2 linked regions of the Homo sapiens genome follow. The protein of the gene in region 1 binds, or shares a complex with, the protein of each later gene. Each region holds a gene or a part of one and is shown on either strand. Other genes may lie near its edges.

Region 1 (7,033 bases):
AGTGCTGGGATTACAGGTGTTGAGACACCACATCTGGCTGAGATAAAATTATTTCTCTCTGGTCATTCTTAATATTCAGAGACATATCTGGAAACACATTCACCAAACAGTGAATTTGGCTATTTCTGAGTGGTAAAATTGTGACTTGCTTTCATCTTTGTACTTGTCAATTCTGACTGAATATTTTATGATGAGCATGTCAGTTTCTTTAAAAAACAAAAACCATTATTTGTTTTTCTACACATACACATGGTATATGACAAATATTATGTCAATAAAATATTTTTTAAGTAAATAAAGAGACACATGGTGGAGTTAGAGAAGGAAAACAAACAAATTACCTTCCAGTTCAAAAGCAGAAATGGCCAAGAATGAACGAAAGGACAATGCTCACCTCAGGGATGGGCGAGTTCAGCCCAGGGATTTTCAGGTTGGGATACGATGGGGGTGGTCCATATCGCTGCATGGCAATCAGCCATGGGGGAGGGACCTTGTGGGCATTCTGCAGGAAAAAGAGAACAGGATACCATCTGCCAAACCCTATCCCTGTCTCTGCCTTCCACTCCAATCCCCACCAGCCTCTTCGCTGCTTCCCCAGACAGCTAACTGACACTCACTGGTCCTACTGGCATCCCCAAGGAAATCCTTAGCTCATCAGACAGATCTCCTGGCTTCTTCTCCTTCAGTCGTGTCTCGAACTCCTTCCCCTGAGGGAAAAGCAGAGCATGCTACATTGTAGACCCAGACACTCAGTGGGAGCACAATCCTAACGCACATCAGATATAAAATCCCAGTGAGGGCTACCTGGCTCCCACTCTGATTCTCATCACTTCTTTCCCTGGCCAAAGTCGGGGAAGGAATAAAAACCAGGCCAGACTCACAGTGCTGTCAATAACCCACTATGAGAACACGGCCAACGTTAGGACCTGCCTCCTCATCTGTAAAATGAGGGCACTCGACAGGAAGATATGCAAAATTCTTCCACCTCATAAATTCCATGACATCATGGTGACTACGATTTCAAGGATCAGAAAAAACCAGCAATTTCTCTACCACTCCCAATATTAAAAGTTTCCTAAAAGCATCTGCCCCTTGGCCCCTCCATCCCTAAACCACCTACCACAAACTATTATCATTTCTAAGACAGGATACGAAGAGTCTATCAGGGAAAGAAGCCACCAGATCTGCATCTCTCCTCCAAATAGAGCCTCATTTTTAAATTCCATCTCATCCGAGGGTAGTCGATGGGCAATTCTAAGGCTGAGGAACTATCGTAGTTGCTTCAAAAGCCCTCCTTGGCCAGGTGCGGTGGTTCATGCCTATAAACCCAGCACTTTGGGAGGCTGAGGCGGGTGGATCACTTGAGCTCAGGAGTTCCACACTAGCCTGGGCAACATAGCGAAACCCTGTCTCTACCAAAGATACAAAAAATTAGCCAGGTGTGGTGTGCCTGTGGTCCCAGCTACTCAGGAGGCTGAGATGGGAGGACTGCTTGAGCCCCCAAGGCAGAGGTTACAGTGAGCCGAGATCCCACCACTGCACTCCAGCCTGGATAACAGGGTGAGACTCCATCTTTTTTAAACAAACAAACAAACAAAAAAAAGCCCTAGACAGTCTCAACCCCAAGGCCCAGCCTGACCTCTCCCAGCCCCCTCCCGAACCTCATAGTACAGGTCCCCATGGATGGTCAGCTTTGGCTTGGTCTGCCACTTGAAGAAGGCATCATGCAGTTTCTGGTAGTCGATGTCAATTTTGCCCATCTTAGGCCGAACTTTCTCTCGCATTTTTGACTTCATGGTCTTCTGTTCTTCCTGTGGAGAATGGCAGCAAACAAGCCTTAACAAGTACTCACCAAATTCATGTAGAGAATCCAGCTCCCAACTCCAAATGAGATCATGGGAAGCCTCAATTATCTCACCCTGAAAGTCATCAAAATCCTTCCTGCTAAAACCTTTCAAAATTACATAATCCATACTGAACAAAACAGACTATACAATATCAGCCTCAGCCGTGTATATCAATAACTAGTTTTTAAACCATCTCATCAAGAGATGAATCTCAACAGTTCTCTGGAAAGCAGAGACTTCCCCATGTTCTTTTCTACCTCCTGAATTCAAAGCATTTAACTAAAAGCTTTAAAATTAAGAAGTTACACAACCACCACGAATCTCTAGCCACAAAGTACATCTGAGAAAGGAGTCACCAGGTGAGCTGGCAAAGTGAAGGCAGAGGGGAGGAAGAGCAGAGGAGGAAAACAAAAGGATAATTAGACAAGTAACAAGTAGGTGGTAGGTGGGTTTCAAACCAGATTCCCATTTTGAAGCACACTGCTATGAAGGATGGGGACACCCGGGGGCAGGTCTGAGCCCTGCCAGGCCCTCACCTTCTCCTGCAGGGCCTCTCGCATCTCCTGGATGCCTGTGCGTTTGATGAAGTCTGGCAGCTCGAAGGGGGGCTTCTCAATGCCCCGTTTGCCCTGCAGGTATTTGCGCTTAAAACACCAGTGGCGTGGCACAGGCACAGAGTTCCGAGTGGCCTTGAGGTGAACCAAGAGCTTAGGGTCCTGCGCTGTCACATCGTGCATCTCCACGACATCGGGCCGAGCCACCAGCTGGAAAACACATAGTAATGCGTGTTCTCGAGAGCCCCGACTTCTCAGTTCTGAAGCTCTTCTTCCTCAAAGGACCCAAACCCAAATCACCCACACCTCCTTCAAAGAACTCCTTTTCACCTCCCTGGCTCCCCAGGTGGTCTCCCAGCTGGGCTCCAGGGCCTGCAGGATCCTCTCAGGTCTTACCTGCTTGAGTTCAGCCACAGTGAAGCGGTTCATTCGGCGCAACTTCTTCTTGGACAGCTTGGGGGCTTCTGGCTTCTTTTCCTAGAACAGAACAATCAGCCCTTTTAAGCAGGACTCAGATGTGAATGAAACTGCCCAACCCACCCCAACCTTAAGCCACCAAAGCTCTGTAAGAGTTCACCATGGTCCCTCTCTGGATGCATCTCAGCCACCTGTGCCCAGAGTCCCTGCTTCCCACCAGGAGGGCTGGGCCTGACCTGCTCGTCATCACTGCTGTCATCATCACTGTCCTTGTGCTCCTCTTCAAATCCCTTCTTCTTGGGGGCTGCAGAGTTCTCCAGTTTGTCAAGTTTCTCTGGCTCCTTCTCTTTCTCCTTCTTCACATCATCAGTGAGCTAAGGAGGCAGACAAGGTGAAACCCCTGCCCTCTGAGCCCCTTCCCAGTTCCTAAGGCCAGCACTAAAAGATGCCTGTTCACCGCTGCCTCTCACCCACCTCTGAGCCCCTTCCCTGTTTGGCACTGCCCCTTCCTAGTGTGCTCTCCTTGTACCTTAAAAGCCTCAAAGATCCTCTTAAAGAAGATAAAGTTGGGCTCGTAAATTTCAGGTTCTTCAGTCACATACTCAATCTCAACATCAGCTGCTGGGGAATCAGAGCCACGGGACCGGGTTGAGTCTTTCTCCCGGTCCCCAGAGCTCTCAGAGGACACCCCTCGCACCCGCTGGGGCTTTTTCTTCTTCTTTCGGTTCCTACGCTTCCGGTTTTTCTGTCAAGAGGAGGAAAACCAGCTGGGTCAGGGAATCCAAGCACTGTGCCAGCACCCCAACCCCTAAACTCCTCCCCCATTCTCCCCCACAGTTCAACAGTCAGGCTTTTCCCAAGGAGGCCATCTCATGAAGTAGCTGCGAAGGGGCCTTGGAGTCAGACTCCAAAGTTCTGCCACTCACAAGCTGTATGCCTTTGGGTAAATTACTGTGCGTCTCAGAACCTCTGCTTTTTCAGCTGTAAAATGTAGGCACGTATAGTACTTGGAACTCAAAGCAATTAAATGAAAAATATCTATAAGATGCTGAGGGCGGAAATTGGCACAAAATAGAAGCTATTACTTACTGAACACTTACAAATTGTGTTATTTCCGTACCCAAGTCCCATCTCCTGGCTTTCCTTCCACACTCAGCTCCAATCCCTACCTCCTTTTTAGATACGGACACTGTGTCCTCCTCAGTCTCTGACGCTGACTGGCCCAGGGACGAGCGAGCATCTGTTTCCATTTCCTCTTCCTCTGTAAGGAAGAAGGTGGTGATGAGTCTTCACGGTGCCACTGCCCTGCACTCGTTCACAGTAACCTGCCTTTACCAAGAGCCAGGGAAAGGGACAGAGGGATGAGGACTCAGCTCAGCCTCTCCAGGTTCTGTGGCTACAGCATCAGAACGCCTGGCACTCACCCTGCTGAGAATTCATCTCTTCCTGGCGGCTCTCCTTCAGCTGCAGGATCTTCTCCAAAGCCTGGGGGATCTTGGGGCCCACAGAGGGGTCATCCATCTGCCAGAGACACCCAGTCAGAGAAGGCAAATCACAGTGCCCTTTTTCTTTTTTTTTTCTTTCTTTCTTTTTTTTTTTTTTGAGACGGAGTTTTGCTCTTGTTGCCCAGGCTGGAGTGCAATGGCGCGATCTCGGCCCACCACAACCTCCGCCTCCCAGGTTCAAGCAATTCTCCTGCCTCAGCCTCCCGAGTAGCTGGGATTACAGGCATGCACCACCACACCTGGCCAATTTTGTATTTTTAGTAGAGATGGGGTTTCTCCATGTTGAGGCTGGTCTAGAACTCCTGACCTCAGGTGATCCGCCCGCCTCGGCCTCCCAAAGTGCTGGGATTACAGGTGTGAGCCACCGCACCCAGCCCACAGTGCCCTTTTTCCACCAACTTCCACCTCTTGGACTAGAAAGGCTGCTGCCCAGGTGATGTAAGCAGCAGAGAGTGGGCAACACCAACTGGGCTCAGTGGGGTTTAGTGTTCCTCAGAGGGACCCCAAGACTCTGCCTCAGTAATGTCTCCCCAGTCCCTCTGCCATACCCTTAGTTTAAATAAGAAGGGCTCCCCACTACCCCCAGGAATTTAAGTCCCCCCATCTTCTCACAGAACCTTTCTCTAAAAATCCAAAAATAGTCCCATCCTAAACTACCACTCTCTTATCCCTAGGAATAAATCATCAGTCTCACCTCTCTGTTCTCATCTCCAGGGGGCGGTGGGGGACCACGAGGCCGGGGAACAGGGGCTCCCATGGGCAAAACTGTAGGAGTGGGGCCCACTGGGCCCACTGGAGCAGCTACTAAGAGACGGGAAAAAGAAATCCAATGTCAGAAGAGGCAAAACACTCACGTAAAAAATTACCTCTCTTGCTGAAAGGGTGATGGTAAACCTGCAGGGGAGGAGGGCACGTGGCGTGGCTTTTGGAATGCTGGTAATGTTTTGGATCATGGTCCAGGTGCTGGTTGTACAGGTGTGTTCAGTGTGTAAAAAACCATTAAACTATATATTTACTATATATGCCCTTTTTAAATGTGATAGATACCTTAAAAGTCTTTTTAAAAATGTCTAAATCACCTTCCTTGCCCTTCCCCTCGGTTCCAGGGTCTCACCTCGAGGACCCAGAGGAGTGCGCACACCAATCTGGCCCATGTCTTGTGGGGGCCGAGGGACTGGGGTGCCCATCTTGGCAATCTCCTGCTGTCGTTCCTGCTCCAGTAACACAGCTGCCTACGGGAGGGAAGTGGGAGTAGATACTGCCTGAAAACGCATTTGGCAGGCAGCCCCTGGCAAATGCATTCTTTCAGCCGGGTAATGGGCCCAAGGAGAACAATCACGAACCACTTGGGTGCTGACATCCCCTCCACCCCCACACTTCCAGGCTACTAATCCAAACGGAGGAGCCCTCTCATCACAACGGAAAATCCCTAGAAATAACACCAAGGAAAACCCCAGGAAACTTCTGGTTCCTAGCAGAGAATTTCATATTGAGCCAAACAGTGCCTTCTACTTTTCAGAGAGTTTTCTTCCCCAAAAGATTAAATTATACAGAAGAAACTTTTGAGCTCTTTTCTTATATCCACCCCTCAAGATCCAGCACAATCTGGGCAAAGACAGTACTTTACCCACAGGTCCAGACTTGTGGCTTTTTTTTTTTTTTTTTTTTTTGAGACAGAGTCTGGCTCTGTTGCCTAGGCTGGAGTACAGTGGCATGATCTCAGCTCACTGCAACCTCGGCCTCCCCAGCTCAAGCCATCCTCCCACCTCAGCCTCCCAAGTAGCTGGGACTACAGGCATGCGCCGCCACACCTGGCTAATTTTTGTATTTCTGAGAGACAGGGTTTCATTATGTTGGCCAGGCTGGTCTCGAACTCCTGAGCTCAAGCGATCCACCCACCTCAGCCTCCCAAAGTGCTAGGATTACAGGTGTGAGCCACGGCACCCAGCTCATACTTGTTGCTTTTTAACACTTACTTTTTAATACTCCTGAGTAACCCACTGGGTAATGACTGATGCAATGCACCTCTGGGGCCAAACATCTTATATAACATTCCCAGACTTACAGTCCTATTCTGTCTAAATCCAATACAAATAACTCAATTACCCAGAGTCCTATCTAGAATGATGTCATGTAAGGCGAGCAGAGGTCAGCAGGCTCTTTTTATAATAGGTCAGAAGGTAAATATTTTAGGCTTTATGGGTTGCTGTACAGACTCTGGTACATATTTTTGGTTTGGGTTTTCTTATAACCCTTAAAAAATTTTAAAGTTATTTTTAGCTCATAGGCCATACACATGCAGGCCACAGGTCATAGTTTGTCAATTCCTGAACTTCAAGAAAAATTGAAAGCTTTGGAAGATACTAGAACTTAGTTGAGAACAAAGTAGCCTCCAGGGAAAACTTGAATGGTGCACTCTAAGCACTATAAATGACAGCCAACTGACTGGACCACGAGGTCAAAGGTTAGGGGGAGGGGTATTACCCGCTTCTGCTGCTCCAAGAGCTCATGTTCCTTCAGCGAATGATCTCCCTGCTTAAAAAAGAAAACAAGTTCATACCAGCACCAATACCCAACACGCCAATCTGCCACAACTCTTGCTTCTTGAGATCCTCTTCCAGTCAAGGGCCCATGTTCCAATCTTTAGTCCCGACCTTCCCAGAAGCCTTAGTTCTAGGACCCAGCTTTCTCTAAGGCTCCACTGCCCCTT
Region 2 (4,740 bases), on another chromosome or scaffold:
AGAGCTAAGCATTTCTACTGGGCAGTTTCATTTTTAGTTGATCAGGTTTTAAGTTTTTGAACTAAAATTTTTCTTTTTCTTTTTATGATGAATAAGGTTAAAATAAAAGCCTTAGACAAATTAAATTTGGCAGAGTTTAATTGAGCAAAGGACAATTCACAAATCAGGTAGCCCCTGAACCATAATAGGCTCAGAGGCTTCAGCCCAGCTGCATAGTTGAAGATTTATGGACAGAAGGAAAGTGATGTATGGAAAATGGAAGTGAGATACAGCAACAGCCGGATTAGTTACAGTTCAGCGTTTGCCTTATTTGAATATGGTTTGAACAGTTCGCTGTCTTTGGTTGGCTGAAACTTAGTGATTGCCACAAGAGTAGGGTACCGTCTGTTTACACGTCCAGTTAGGCTACAGTTCTATGTACTGAGAAACCTTTAAGCTGAACTTGAGATATGTAAAGAGACTTTAGGCTAAACTTAACAATATATATAGGATATATACCCTTCTACTTCACATGCACTGAATATGCATTTTATTGCTTTACTCTTCATTCTGTGGCACCTACCCACAGGGGAAGTAAGAAGTTTGTTTTGGTATTTCGGAAACTAAAGTCCTTATGGGATGGGGTCTAGAATTGATTCTCCTTTCCTGAGTTTTACTCCACGGAGTCTTAGGTACCTGGTAAAAAGTTGTCTTCTAAATTAAGGGTCATTGCTTTGTTGTCTAGCTGCTAATGTCTTACTTTTGTTTCTTTTGCTTTTTAATCAGTTCTTAATAGGATATAGTTTTATGTTTTCCAAGTTATAACTTGGAGTTAATGGTCACTAGATTATCAGTTATGAGCAGTGTTAAAATCTCCTATTAATGTGTAATGTACCTGTCAGTGCCTCCTTTATTAAGGGGTTCTTTGAGAATAAAAGAGAAAAGACCTACTTTATTTGACAGCAAAACTGTTCTAATTGTTAATAAGGACTTTTAAAAATTGTTTTTGATTTGCTAAGCTCAGAAAAAATGTCTCTCAGTGCATCAGTTCTTTGTAAAGCTTACTACGAAGTATTTATATGCTAAGGAAAACAACTGAGGATGTGGGTGGCTTAAATCTGTATTTTCATCATGTATGTGAGTTTTTTTTTTTTTAAGTAAAGAAATTTTCTGCAAAGATCGTTACCTTAAAAAAGTTTAGCCTGGGTGTGGTGGCTCACGCCTGTAATCCCAGCACTTTGGGAGGCCGAGGCAGGTGGATCACGAGGTCAGGAGTTGAAGACCAGCTTGGCCAAGAGGGTGAAACCCCATTTCTACTAAAAATACAAAAGTTAGCCAGGTGCAGTGACAGGCGCCTGTAATCCCAGCTACTCATGAGGCCGAGGCAGGAGAATTGCTTGAACCCAGGAGGCGGAGGTTGCAGTGAGCCGAGATTGTGCCACTGCACTCCAGCCTGGGCGATGGAGTGAGACTACGTCTCAAAAAAAAATCGAGAGAGAGATATATATATGTATTTATATATATATGTATTTATACTAATATATAAATATATACTAATAGATATATTAGTATACATGTAGAATGTACCTGTCATATATATTAGATATATAAATGTATATATTGGTATAAATAAATACTAGATATATATTTTTTTAAGTATCTTACCTCATCAAGTAAATTCAAATGCTTTTTGATTTTTCCACAGTTGATAATTTTTTTTTGTAAGTCATTGAAGTTATATAGTAATTAGCGTTTTTTCCCCCACAAATTATTGGCAGTGGTCACCCAGTTGTATTACAGGTTCTATGATCCAAAAAGGGATGTATGAAATTCATGATGATTAAGACAATTTTTTCTTTCTTTCTTTTGAGACAGAGTCTTGCTGTGTCACCCAGGCTGGAGTGCAGTGGTGCGATCTTGGCTCACTGCAACCTCTGCGTCCCGGGTTCAAGAGATTATTGTGCCTCAGCCTCCAGAGTAGCTGGGATTATAAGCGTGCGCCACCACACCCAGCTAATTTTTTTGTATTTTTAGTAGAGACGGGGTTTCACCATGTTGGCCAGACTTAAGACAATTCTTTAATAGTAAATATATTAAAGGTGAGTTGGCTTGACAAGATACAACCAATATGTAATTTTTCTCCACACGTTTTTTTTTTTTTTTTTTTTTTTTTTCTGGAGACAGTCTTGCTCTGTTGCCCAGGCTGGAGTACAGTGGCGCGATCTTGGCTCACTGCAAGCTCTGCCTCCCGGGTTCAGGCCATTCTCCTGCCTCAGCCTCCCGAGTAGCTGGGACTACAGGTGCCTGCCACCACACCCAGCTAATTTTTTGTCTTTTTAGTAGAGACGGGGTTTCACTGTGTTAGGATGGTCTCGTTCTCCTGACCTCATGATCTGCACGAGGCCTCCCAATGTGCTGGGATTACAGGCGTGAGCCACCGTGCGTCCCCGGCCTATACCTTTCATTAATTAATAAGCTGGGGGAATAAATAACTGGATTTCATTCTTTTCCATCTTCTGACCTGTTGGTGCTCCTATTGCTTGTATCCAAGTAGAAGGCAAAAGGCAAGAGACCCCTGTAATGCAGCAAGTGGAGAGATTTGTTGAAGGGGTCAAACAAAACCCTGCAAGAGTAGGAAATAAACAGTTGGCTCCTGTCCTCGTGGAGCTTATAGACAGAAGCAGATAACAAATAAAAATTGGAGCTTAGTGCCGTGGTGCACACTTGTAGTCCCTGCTACTGGGGAGGCTAAGGCAAGAGGATCGCTATAGCCTGGGAATTTGAAGCTGTAGCGTGCTATGATTGCAAGCAGCCTGGGTAACCTAGTGAGACCTGGCTCTTAAATTTAAAATTTAAATGAAAATGGCCACTTAGCATAAGAGATCTAAAATTACGTTTTGTCCTGGCATGGTGGCTCATGCCTGTGACCTCAGCACTTTGGGAGGCCGAGATGGGCGAATCACTTGAGGTCAGGAGTTCGAGACCAGCCTGGGTAACATGGTGAAACCCTGTCTACTGAAAATACAAAAATTAGCTTGGTGTGGTGGCGGGTGCCTGTAATCTCAGTTACTCAGGAGGCTTAGGCAGGAGAATCACTTGAACCCTGGAGGCAGAGGTTGCAGTGAGCTGAGATCACACCACTGCACTTCAGCCTGAGTGACAGAGCGAGACTGTTTCAAAAAAAAAAAAAAAATTTGTTTTGAGAGTTTTTGTGTCTAGGATGTTTGCAGTGTGAAGCCAGTCTAGTAACAGTTTAAATGTAATAATAAATCACAGTGGGTACTAGATTGAGTTTATTCCACTAGAGGTCATTATTTCATTTCCATGTGAAAGGGCTAAAATTGGGTGAAGAAAAAGCTATTTGAACTGATTACCATCATTTGCTATAAAGGAAGCATTATAGTATGAATAGAAAACAGACTAGAGTTTAACATGCTTCTCTTGACCCCTCTTCACCACCCCCTAAAAGGCAGATGGGATCTTAGGACTGCAGCATTTTGTACACATCTGATATTTAATGAGATGTTACATATGAACTTTAGTTTTTTTTCTTTTCTTTTCTTTTCTTTTCTTTTCTTTTTTTTTTTTTGAGACAGAGTCTAGCTCTGTCACCCAGGCTGGAGTGCAGTGGTGCAATCTCGGCTCACTGCAAACTCTGCCTCCCGGGTTCACGCCATTCTCCTGCCTCAGCCTCCTGAGTAGCTGAGACTACAGGTGCCCACCACTATGCCCGGCTAATGTTTTGTACTTTTAGTAGAGACGGGGTTTCACTGTGTTAGCCAGGATGGTCTGAATCTCCTGACCTCGTGATTCGCCCGCCTCGGCCTCCCAAAGTGCTGGGATTACAGGCGTGAGCCACCGCGTCCGGCCGAACATTAGTTTTTAAAGAAATGTATTATGAATATAGATAGAAAACCCAAAGTGAAGGAATAGAAAATGAAATATCAGTTTCTTTTAATCTATCATAATTATGTGAGCATAACTTAGTATTTTGAAATAGATTAATGTAGTCAGCAAACAATTCATGTATTACCTATAATAGATATCATACATATAACATTTAATAACATACAGTTCTTGTTCCTGAAGACTTAACCTAGAAAATAACTCCATAACAAGAAGAATCTCTGTCATAATAAACCAACAGCAGACATTTTCTAAAGGCATTAAAAGTATATCTGATACTGGCCTTTATTAATGTGAAATTCTTGTGGATCTGTGAAATAAAGAGGAGTACTTTCTTTTCGTTTTTTTTTCTTTTCTTTTTTTTTGAGACAGTCTCACTCCTTCATCAAGGCTGGAGTACAGTGGTGCGATCTTGGCTCACTGCAACCTCTGTGTCCCGGGTTCAAGCAATTCTCGTGCCTCAGCCTCCCGAGTAGCTGGGATTACAGGCATGCACCACCACACCCAGCTAATCTTTGTATTTTTAGTAGAGACAGGGTTTCACCATTTTGGCCAGGCTGGTCTCTAATGCCAGACCTCAAGCGATCTGCCTGCCTCAGGCTTCCAAAGTGCTGAGATTACAGGTGTGAGCCACTGCGCCCAGCCAATAGGAGTACTTTTGAAAAGGAAGATAAATTTTTTTTTTTTGAGACGTAGTCTTGCTCTGTCACCCAGGCTGGAGTGTAGTGGTGCAATCTCAGTCCACTGCAAGCTCCACCTCCCGGGTTCATGCCATTCTCCTGCCTCAGCCTCCCGAGTAGCTGGGACTACAGGCACCCACCACCACGCCTGGCTAATTTTTTGTAGTTTTAGTAG

What was found. Proteins that work in one complex are often made in the same cells at the same time.
Region 2: SF3B2 (region 1) and SNRPD1 share a complex: the UniProt entries of both Homo sapiens proteins name them as parts of the minor spliceosome.

What each region holds. Positions count from the first base shown.
Region 1 is NC_000011.10:66,055,360-66,062,392, reverse strand, and holds part of SF3B2 (splicing factor 3B subunit 2), read right to left. Parts: intron 6,859-7,033; coding exon 6,808-6,858; intron 5,556-6,807; coding exon 5,438-5,555; intron 5,128-5,437; coding exon 5,018-5,127; intron 4,340-5,017; coding exon 4,243-4,339; intron 4,080-4,242; coding exon 3,988-4,079; intron 3,564-3,987; coding exon 3,348-3,563; intron 3,193-3,347; coding exon 3,055-3,192; intron 2,879-3,054; coding exon 2,798-2,878; intron 2,612-2,797; coding exon 2,384-2,611; intron 1,812-2,383; coding exon 1,662-1,811; intron 708-1,661; coding exon 618-707; intron 503-617; coding exon 395-502; intron 1-394. UniProt on the Homo sapiens protein: Component of the 17S U2 SnRNP complex of the spliceosome, a large ribonucleoprotein complex that removes introns from transcribed pre-mRNAs.
Region 2 is NC_000018.10:21,629,301-21,634,040, forward strand, and holds the end of SNRPD1 (small nuclear ribonucleoprotein Sm D1), read left to right. Parts: 3' UTR 1-4,220; downstream 4,221-4,740. UniProt on the Homo sapiens protein: Plays a role in pre-mRNA splicing as a core component of the spliceosomal U1, U2, U4 and U5 small nuclear ribonucleoproteins (snRNPs), the building blocks of the spliceosome.